Regions from separate parts of the Homo sapiens genome. Here region 1 is linked to region 2. The links come from fine-mapping of genetic effects on gene expression. A gene starts in region 2. The other region holds a variant in brackets. All regions are shown on one strand. Distances are from middle to middle. Region 1 overlaps SMPD1 (sphingomyelin phosphodiesterase 1). Region 2 holds the start of APBB1 (amyloid beta precursor protein binding family B member 1).

Evidence for each region. PIP is the estimated chance that this variant, and not a neighbour inherited with it, causes the effect.
Region 1: its variant is fine-mapped to the expression of APBB1 in whole blood (TOPMed, PIP above 0.99).

The regions. Positions count from the first base shown.
Region 1 is chr11:6,392,854-6,398,227 of GRCh38, reverse strand. It overlaps SMPD1 (sphingomyelin phosphodiesterase 1), which reads right to left. Exons shown (of 6, transcript NM_000543.5): 3 at 4,841-5,012; 4 at 4,535-4,611; 5 at 4,187-4,332; 6 at 3,232-4,030. The coding sequence ends at 3,621. APBB1 (amyloid beta precursor protein binding family B member 1) reads left to right here. Exons shown (of 15, transcript NM_001164.5): 13 at 2,013-2,128; 14 at 2,266-2,442; 15 at 2,527-3,103. The coding sequence ends at 2,694. Among named protein-coding and RNA genes, the nearest start is that of SMPD1, 5.1 kb to the right of the region's middle. The variant G/A (reference allele first, on the strand shown) is at 2,499.
Region 2 is chr11:6,416,740-6,422,113 of GRCh38, reverse strand. APBB1 (amyloid beta precursor protein binding family B member 1) reads left to right here and starts at 3,020. Exons shown (of 15, transcript NM_001164.5): 1 at 3,020-3,129. RefSeq lists silencers at 2,653-3,052, 3,063-3,252.

The DNA of each region.
Region 1 (5,374 bases), 24 kb after region 2:
AAAAAGAAGAGAAAAGCACAGCAGGATTAGGGGGATTGCATGTGGGGCTGGAGGTCAAGGTCACAGTGTAGGTTTTAGTCCTGAGTTATCAAATCTGACAGCCTTTTTCCATACCTTGGTCCACTGCTTTCACTGCTTCCCTGCCAAACTTCCCAAGACTCTGAGGCCAGGCTCCATCTCCCACAGCCCCATCTATTCAGCAGTTTGACTATGATGTCCCTTTCACACACCTGAACTTTGAGATTTCCAATTGCCCTGGCCTAAATGTCATAAACATCACACCCCTCTGCCTGGCTTTTGAAGCACTCTGCAATCTGACCTGGCCCATCCACTTCTGTGACACTTGGTTTTACCAGTTCGGGTGCATTTGCCCTTGTTGCCTTGAGAGTGACTTGCTCATGCATCTGGAATTTCTTCAGCAGATAAGCCCTGTGTTAGAATTGGGGACAGAGGGATGAATTAAATTCCATTTCTGTTCTTGAGATGGCCACGGCCCAGTGTGGAAAAAAGTTTTCCAGCAGTTACAAGACGTTATGGTAAGAGTTGTCTCAGAGTTGTCCTCTCCCTGCCCTGCAGCAGGCATGGCTTCCTAGACAGCACCTAGTTGGAGCCCTGAAGGATGACAGTCTGAAGTTTCTCAGTCCAGCAGGGAAAGGGCACTCAAGACAGAGGCTTTTCCCTCAGTTGCAGTCTGTGTCTCTCAAGGGCATTCTCTTCTCTTGCTTTGTATTCCCCATCTGCTTTACAGGCCATTTGCCAAGATTAGTTGTTAATAATAATGCTACACAAATCATCTGAAGCTCAGGGAGCAGTAAAATATGAAGCTTGACAGCTCTGGTGAGGCCAGTTTTTGGAAGACTTGTATGCTTTTGGGAGCAGTTTGGCCTTGATCCAGCTAGAAGTCAGATGAGCAAGGCCAAGATGGGAGAAGACATGCAAGGAAGACATTTGTCCTCTGCCCAAAAGAGTCCACGTGGTCTGCTCCTAGTGGGAGCTGAGAGCCACTAAAAGGGGCAGAGGGCCTGGGAGTGGACCACAGAGGCATGTGCCTTTTGCACTGGCATTGTGCAGAGACAGTAGATCACACAGCCAGCGTATGAGTGTGGGGACTAGAACTGATGCCTTTGCCACAACATGTGCTCCTGCCTTGGTGCTCTGCTGAGTGCAAGCAAAAGTGGGATCCATGAGGGGAAATGTTTAACAGCAGTTTGAGGTGGAGGAGGCCATGTGTTATAAGGGAAAGTTGATTGATCTGAAAGTCAGGAACCTTGGGTTCCTTGGCTCTTGAGCACATTATAGACATTCTTGAGTAGAACTAAGATCTTGAAAGCCCTTCTAGTTCTGAAAACTAGTAATATAGAGAAGAGGTAGGAGAAAGGCATGGCTAAGAACCCAGGCTCTGGAATCAGACTGCCTGAGCTCAGGTCCCCATTCCTCGATGTGACCTAAGGCATATTACCTATCTCTTCCGTTTCCTTATTTGTAAAATGGAAATAAAGTAATCTATTGTGATGTTGTTGTGTGGGCACAAATGAGGTAATACACTGTAATGACTTAGCACAATGTGATACAGAGTAATCACTCCTCAGATAGATATCTTAAAAAATAATTGGGTCTTGGGAGAGGACTGGCCTGTAGGGTCTGATTTGGGAGTTATTGTGGTGTGAAGCAATGTGATGTCTGAGTGTGATGAGCGCTGAGAGAGCATGATTTGGGGAAATCAGAACTTTGAGAGGTCAGTCAGTTCAGAAGTGTGGAGGAATAGGCAGAGCCGGTGAAAATAACGAGCCTAGGATCCAAGATTTTAAAAAGTAGGAAAATGTCCAGTTACTGAAGCCAGGGGAGGAGAGCCCCAGGGAAGGGATACTTGGACAGCGTTGTCCAAAATGTAGGCTGGCAAAGTGGGGATGGGGCAAAGGCCCTGGGTTTGATTGGGTGGAACTAGAGGTCCAGGGTAGAGCTGGGGTATCCTCTGTCTACCCTCAGTGGTATCTTGTGTCCATATGTTCTAGGGGTAGATGTGATTAATGGGGCCCTCGAGTCAGTCCTGTCCTCCAGCAGCCGTGAACAATGGACCCCAAGTCATGTCAGTGTGGCCCCTGCTACCCTCACCATCTTGCACCAGCAGGTAAAGAGCTGGGGTAGAAGTCGTGGCTGCGCCTTGCCATAGAGGGGAGACTGGGGGTGAGGGGAAGAGCTGCTAAGATGGATGTGGAACACAGTGTGGGGTTGGTGTTCCTTTTTAACTGAGTTCCCTCCATGCAGACAGAGGCAGTGCTGGGAGAGTGTCGGGTGCGTTTCCTCTCCTTCCTGGCCGTGGGCAGAGATGTCCACACGTTTGCATTCATCATGGCTGCCGGCCCAGCCTCCTTCTGCTGCCACATGTTCTGGTGCGAGCCCAATGCTGCCAGCCTCTCAGAGGCTGTGCAGGCTGCGTGCATGGTAAGCTACTAGTAGGGTGGTGTGGTGGTGGCGTGGCCCCATGGGAGGTAGGCTGG[G/A]GAGTGACTGCCCTGCTTGCCTCCGCAGCTTCGCTACCAGAAGTGTCTGGATGCCCGTTCCCAGGCCTCCACCTCCTGCCTCCCAGCACCCCCTGCTGAGTCTGTGGCACGGCGTGTAGGGTGGACTGTCCGCAGGGGTGTTCAGTCGCTGTGGGGCTCCCTGAAGCCCAAACGGCTGGGGGCCCATACCCCATGAAGAAGCCCCCACCTTCCCTCCACCTGCTTGTGTTGGGCCCCAGGGAACTAAAGGGTGTGGGTCAGGGAGGGGTCTAGAGGCTATTCCTAGGCCTCAGGCCTCCCAAATATGCCCCTCCCCAGTAGCTACGGTTCCCTGCCTAGGAGCTGGGGAGGGAGAGATCTAATCCCTTCAAGGAAGTGATAACACTGGAGTGGTAACAAGAGGAGCAGGAAGCAAGGCCAGCCCTGGTTCTCCATCCCCATGTGTTTCAGGTGGAACAGGAGGAACTGGTCCAGGCCAGGCCTCATCCTCCTGGACCCAGCAGGGGCAGAAGGAGGAAGGGACTGGTCCAGGCATGGGTCCCTTCCCCCTGCTCCATGGGCACCTCTGCTGTATTGATATCACTAATAAAGTCTGTCTGCACTGCTGTGTGCCTTCTTATGCCTGTACCACACCATCAACCCATTAGCCTGTGCCTCAGTTATGATCTTGCTCCAAAGATCTCCTTGCCCTGCTTGCCTGGAAAGAAGAAATTGGGACAGTCACACAGGGGTCTGGAGTCCAAGTCTCTTATCTTTATTTTAACAGACTGGCAGCATCAGGTCGCAGCAGCAGTACAGGGTTCCTGGCTGGGCAGCACAGGCCTGGGGCGACAGCTCCTGTCTTGTCTGCCCAGGGCAGTGTCAACTTAGGCCTCTACTCCATGGCTGTGAAAGGACAGCAGCCTCAAGGCAGTCTAGCTCCTGGGCACAGGCAGCCAAACCCCCTCCCATATCCAGCTAAACCAGCTCCAGGAAAGGAGAAGGTCCTGTTTCCCCGGCATCCTTGGGGCCCAGGGACTGGTTCTTTCACCGGATGATCTTGCCTGGTTGAACCACAGCAGCATTTGGGCTTTTTCACCCTTTCCTACATCAAGAACTTTCCCAAATGTGGGCCCTGGGGCCCTAGCAAAACAGTGGCCTTGGCCACAGGCTCTGGGCCTCTGGGAGGCTCCCATCTGGCATCAGGTGGCGGCACAGAGCAGGGCTGTCAGCACGGGCAGAGAGCTGGGCACAAAGAGTAGCCAGACGGCAGGGCGTGCCACAGGGCTCCGAGGGTGGGTGGCCCTTATGGTAGAGAAACCAGAAGGTCTGGAAAAGTTGCATGTCGCCCCGCATGCGATATACCAGGTTGTGCCAGGCGGTAGGCAGTGTGTTGGGCAGCCCATAGGTTTCTCGAGCCCTGTAGAGAAGCTGCCAGTGCGGTATGGCTCCCGGTATGTTTGCCTGGGTCAGATTCAGGATGTAGGTCTCATGGTCCAGGACCACGTGAGAGCTCCCGGAGTAGTTTCCATCTATTTGGTACACACGGTAACCTGCAAGGATGTGGGGCTGACTGGAGGGGCAAGGAGCAAGGGTAACTCCAGGGAGGGGCCACACATCCTGCCCATGCTTTGCAGGCTCTGGCTCCAACCTCCTTCCCCTATCCCACCAACTCCAGGATAAGGGAGGCTCCCTTCTGCCTCACTCACCAGGATTAAGGCCGATGTAGGTAGTTGCACTGGGTGCCAGGAAGGCTACAGCCAGCGGCCGGCTCAGAGTCTCTTCATCATAGAAGACCTCAAATTCATCCACATGAGTGTGGCCAAAGAACTGAGCAGCCAGGGTGTTCTCATACCTGGCCAGAAGGTACTACATTCAGAAGATTCTAGGGAGGGGTAGGAAGACATCTGGGGAGATAGGATGCCCTCTTTCTCCAACCTGTTCTAGTGAGGAGCCTCCCCACTCCATGGGACAACAGGGATGGTGAGATGCTCAAGGGAATTTTCAGCCTTCAGACACTCACCCTGTCCCTATTCCCACCCTCATCTCCGTCCTACCTGGCTACAATTCGGTAATAATTCCAGCTCCAGCTCTTCAGACAGTGCCCTGGGGGAATGTGGCCAATTATATGCACCTAGTAGGGAGAATTAAGGATGGTAATCAGGGCATCCAGGGGTCCAGGCAGCCCTGGCTAGAGAAAGGGGGACTGAATGAAGGCTTTCAACAGTGACCATGAGCTGAATCCCCAGGGAACACTTGTTGGGAATGCCAGGAAAATAAAACTTCTGTGCCCAGAGGTGCTCCAGCTCAACAGGAGCCTGCTTGTCCCCCAGCACCACCGTGTTCCCACTACTGGCCCTCACTTTGTCTCCTCGATCCTCAGCAGCCTGAAGCTCCCCCACCAGCCACTGGAGCTGTCCTGCGGGATCCGTGGAGTTGATCAAGAGCCAGAAGTTCTCACGGGAACAAAAATTCATATTGAGAGAGATGAGGCGGAGACCGGGGTATGGGGAAAGAGCATAGAACCCCCCAATTCTGAAACAAAGTAAACATGAGAGGTCAACACTTGTTCCAATCCTGGTCCTCCTGTGCTGGGCATTTGGGTGGAGGGTAAAAGCATACATGACATCTTCCCCACCTGCAAGGAGCTCACAGTCTAGCCAGAGACCAAACAGTTCTAATTATTGGGTCTGTGTGACACAAAAGACTCTGAGGGCAGAGGGCTCCAGGAGTATGGGGGAGGGATAAGAGTTAGCTAGAATGGGAAGCAAGGACCACACAGAGGGAAGATGACATGGGATGGATAAGGTGGGAAAAACTGGAGCACTTAAAAAAAAGGGGGAAATCATTTCCAGAGGGCCAACATGAGCAAAGACACAGCTGGGGCATAGAGAGGT
Region 2 (5,374 bases):
GGCGGATCACGAGGTCAGGAGATTGAGACCATCCTGGCTAACACGGTGAAACCCCATCTCTACTAAAAACACAAAAAATTAGCTGGGCATGGCAGTGGGTGCCTGTAGTCCCAGCTACTTGGGAGGCTGAGGCAGGAGAATGGTGTGAACCCGGGAGGCGGAGATTGCAGTGAGCCGAGATTGCGCCACTGCACTCCAGCCTGGGGGACAGAGCGAGACTCTGTCTCAAAAAAAAAAAAAAAAAAAGAAAAGAAAAGAGGTTTAATCGGCTCACAGTTCTGCAGGCTATACAGGAAACATAGCACCAGCATCTGCTTGGCTTCCAGGGGGTCCTCAGGAAGCTTTTACTCATGGCAGAAAGCAAAGTGGGAGCAGGCATCCCACATGGCTGATCAGAAGCAAGAGAGTGTGGGGGGAGAGGTGCCATACACTATTTATTTATTTATTTATTTATTTGAGATGGAGTTTCACTCTGCTGCCCAGGCTGGAGTGCAGTGGCGTGATCTCGGTTCACTGCAGCCTCCGCCTCCTGGGTTCAAGTAATTCTCCTGCCTCAGCCTTCCAAGTAGCTGGGACTACAGGTGCCCGCCACCATGCCCAGCTAATTTTTTTGTGTTTTTAATAGAGATGGGATTTCACCATGTGGACCAGGCTGTTCTCGAACTCCTGGTCTCAAGTTGATCTGCCCACCTTGGCCTCCCAAAGTGCTGGGATTACAGGCCTGAGCCACCACGCCTGGCCATGCCACACACTTTTAAATAACCGGATCTCACAAGAACTCACTCATCATGGGGAAGACAGCACCAAGCCATGAGAGATCCACCCCTACGACCTGAACACCTCCCACCAGACCCCACCTCCAGCATTGGGGATTACAATTCAACATGAGATTTGATCAGGGACAAATATCCAAACTATATCAACACCCATACTGACCTTCCTGTATTTCTCCTGCTACTTGGAATACTTTTCTCTTCTCCTGGCTGACCTCTAGCTCCTTCATCCCTTTCCCTCACTGAATTGTCACTTCCTATGAAAGCCTCCTAAACTTCCCAGGCCAAATTAAGCCCACTCACATAGCTCCCGGTACATCTCCTTCAAGACACTCATCACATTCCTAATTACATATTTAATGTCTCTTTCCCCTGTTAAATTTCAAGCTGTATGAGAGACGGAACTGTATCTTGTTTCTTGACCTGTTGCTAGCACCAAGGACAGTACCTCATACATAGTAATTATTTGATGAAAGAAAATGAATGAATGAATGAATGAGGACACTTTTGTTCTTCTGGGTAATTCTTCTTCATCTTTCAAGAACCCAGGTCAGATGTCATTTCCTCCAGGTGAGATGCAGTCAAATCTGATTCGTCTTTAGATCCCTAGGGCCTGGCTTGGGACCTGATACATGGTTCATATATCATAGGCATTTGTCAAATCATTATAAACTATTGGTTGTGAATTCATAATTGTTGAAACTGAATGATAGGTATATGAGGGTTCATTATATTGTTCTGTCTGCTTTAGTATATATTGGAAATTTGCCATAATAAAAAGTTAAAACATTTATATTTACCACAAGTAAAATAAAAGTATATTCAAAGATGACTTTGAAGCTTCTGGCTTGGGAAGCCAGTAGTTGGTGTCATTCATTGGAATGGATGGAATGGAGTTGTGTCCAGTGTGGGATGTGTGTTGTGTTGTGTGTGTTGAAGAGGGTTCTTTTTCACCCCAGTGAAACTCCTTAAAAGACTAATAAAGGGGGATGAAACAATAAATTGAGGCTGGACACTGTGTCTGACGCCTGTAATCTCAGCACTTTGGGAGGCCGAGGTGGGAGGATCGCTTGAACACAGGAGTTCCAGACCAGCCTGGGGAACACAGTGAGACCCCCTCTCTACTAAAATACAAAAAGCCAGGCGCGGTGGCACATGTCTGTGGCCCAGGTACTCCGGGGGCTGAGGCGGGAGGAATCTGAGCCCTGGAGGCTGAGGCTTCAGAGAGCCATGATCTTGCCCCTGGGTGACAGAGTGAGACCCTGCCTTGAAAGAAAGAACGAACTCAGATTTGGATATCTTTAGTTTTAGGCACCTGAGAGGGATTAGCATGTAGAGGCTTTCTGGATGGTAATATAACCTCTCATTATCCTTGATGGCCTCTGGGTCACTGATCTGACCATTGGGATGTATCCCACTATCCAGGGAGGGTCTGTAGTAAGTATTGCACCCCACCATCTTCCTTACATCTTTACACTTTTCATTCACAATATCCCCTTCCTTGTGAATTTCTACCGGGGAGCAATGTATTCTTGACATTTTCCAGGCCTTGATGTCAGCTTTATGCTCAGCAGCAGAGGTATTTCAGTGTCAAGAAACATCGGAGTTCCAGTCTAAATTCATCACTAACTGTGACTGCGGGCAAGTCGCTTTACCTCTCTTAATCTTAGCCTCAGCCTCTGAAAAATGAGGATAATAATTCTGGTGATTTTACAGAGCTGATGTGAAGATTAATGCGCGTTAACGGTTTAATAGAGAGCCCGGCACGGTGTAAGTGGTCAATAAATACGAGCTATTATTATGAGCAACGCTGTGTCCTCAGAGCCTCCCCACCAGGACGTCAGGGAGCGGTGCAGCAGGAGCGGCGCAGAGTGCCTCCCGGGAATCCTTCCCCGCGCGGCCGCGGCGCCGCACAGCCGCCGCCATTCGGGCTCCAGCCCCGTCCGCGCGTCTCCCGGCGTGGGTGCGGGACCAGGGCGCTGCGGGGCGCGCAGGGTGAGTCTGTGGAATAGTAGTGGAGGACGGCGCCGCGCTAGGCGGGGGTCCCAGGGAGTCGGCTGCAGGGGTGTCTGCTGGGAGGGCTGGACCGCGGGGCTCACCGAGGTCCGAGGGCCGCCCGCAGGGTGAGGCCCCCAAGAAGCTGCGGCAAGTGCCGCGCCCGCCGAGCTCGCTCCCGCGCCCGCCCCAAGATGGCGCCCCTCCCCCTCCCCTTGCGCGCGCCTCCGCCGCTCGGGGCGCGGCCCCGCGGCCCGCGCGCTCCTGGGCGGGGGATGTTGTGATGGAGAAGCCGCGGCGGAGCCCGAACCCCGCAGCCTGAGCCACCTCCGTCATCTGGGCCCGGGGCCTCACCGCGCAGGTAGGAGGTGTCCCTGCCCCGGCCCAGCCCCGGTGGCTGCGTCCCGATCACCAGCGGCCGGCGGACCCTGTAGCCCCTACCCTGCGGCAGCCCGGGTCCCCCGGCCGGCCCCATCCCCCATCCCCGGGTCGCCCTTCCACCGCGCGCCCGCAGACCGTCCTCTCATACCCACCATCGCAGGGTCCACTCGGGCCCTCACACCGTCCCTTCCGCTGCCCTTTACCTCCTGCCCCTCGGGGTGACTAGGGGCGGGTATGGAGGACGCGAAGCGAGGGGCAGTGGGTGTTGGGGGAGGGGAGGCCCAGGTCCGGGAAGGGGACGTGGGGTGGGGTGGGCTGGCAGGCCGCGCCGATTCCAGCAGGGGTCCCAGGCCCTGGATCTGTCAAGCCGCATTCTGTTGCCCTCAGCGACCGAGGGGTGTGCCCTGGGGCGGCTGTGTCCCCAGCTCAGCCAGGAGGCCTAGCACTGCCAAGAACACTGATTAGAAGCAGTTTTCCCACTGCCAATTCCTAACCTGTTTTGTATCGGCCTGTGTATCTCTTGCATTCTGAGCCCCTCTAGCTATAGTCCCAGCTCTCTCCGCCCTTCAGAGTCAACGCTTGCTGTCTTCATTTCCTTACTTCCCATTCATTCTTAAAAGCACTCCACTCTGTGTCCCTGACACCCACTGAAACTGTCTAGGCCAAGGTCACCGGAGACCTCCTTGTGGAGAACTCCAGTGGACACTGTTATCTCCTTTACCTTTGAGTAGTATTCGGTGGGGTATGTCAACTCACTCTCCTTGAAGCATTTTCCTGCTTTCTGCCCTACAGCATTGTCTGCTCTTCTCAATCTCATTTGCTTCCTCTCCTCCTCTCTTTAGATGCTGGTGAGGCTCTTGGCTCTGTCCCGAGCTGTCTTCTCTCAGTATCTGTTCTTTCTCCCCAGATATTTTATCTACTCCCAAAGCTTCAAATTTCATATATATGCTAATGATTCCCAAATTTATATATCCAGCCCAGACTTCTTTCCTGAAATCCAGACTCATATGTCCAGCTGCTCTCTTGACATCTCCTTGAAAGACAAACAGGAGTTCCAAACCTATAGATTCCAAGCTAAATTATCTTCTGTGGTTTTCTCTGTACCCCACTTCCAAATCTGTTCTTCCTTCGAATCTCAAAAATGGCTCTTTGCCAATCTGGAGTCATGAGCAAGACTTGAGATTAACCCCTCTCTCACTCTCTGCATCTCATTTCACCAAGTTCTGTCACATCCACTGCCTAAATATTTCTCAAATCCATTCATTTCGCTCTTTCCTCACTGCCACCAAAGTTAATCTGGGCCACCACCATTTTTTTTCCTTGACTACTTTAATAGCATACCCTCTTGCCTACCTCCCTTTAACTGTTCTCAACACAGTACCCAGAGTAATCCTTTGAAAAATGCTTCCAATCACTTATTCATGCAATAAATATGATTTCAGCACCTAATATATGCCAGGCACTGTGTTATGTCCTGAAGATATAATTGTGAGCAAAAGAGACTGAGTCCTTGGAGCTGACAATCTAGGAGAAAAATCAAATAAGAATAACATTACAAATGTAATATGTACCATGAAGAAAAGCTGTATGGTGCCTTGAGAACGCACAAGAGCAGTAGCTAAACTGGTCTCGGGGATAGGGAGAGAGGGTTGGAGGACAGCTTCTCTGAGAACATGACGTTTGAACTAAAATATAGTGGATGAGTAGAAGTTAATTCAGCTTAGAGAGTAGGAGAAGAGGTCCCAGGAAGCATGGAAATCACATGCAAACACCTTGTAGAAGGAAAACACATGTCTTCGAGGAATCAGAAGAAGGCTACTGAGGCTGCAGAGCAGTGTGACCAAAGCCAGGGGCAGGGAGGAGGAAGGCAGGCGCCAGACTGAGCAGGAAATTTAGGCCATGTTAAGAATTTGGTCTTAAGGGCCAGGCGTGATGGCTCACGCCTGTAATCCCAGCACTTTAGGAGGCCAAGGCGGGCGGATCACCTGAGGTCAGGAGTTCAGGACCGGCCTGGCCAACATGGCGAAACCCCATCTCTACTAAAAGTACACAAAAATTAGCCGGGCATGGTGGTGTGTGCCTGTAATCCCAGCTACTCAGGAGGCTGAGGCAGAAGAATCGCTTGAACCCGGGAGGCAGAGGTTGCAGTAAGCCGAGATCTTGCCACTGCACTGTAGCCTGGGTGACACAGCAGGACTCCATCGCAAAAAAAAAAAAAAGGGAAT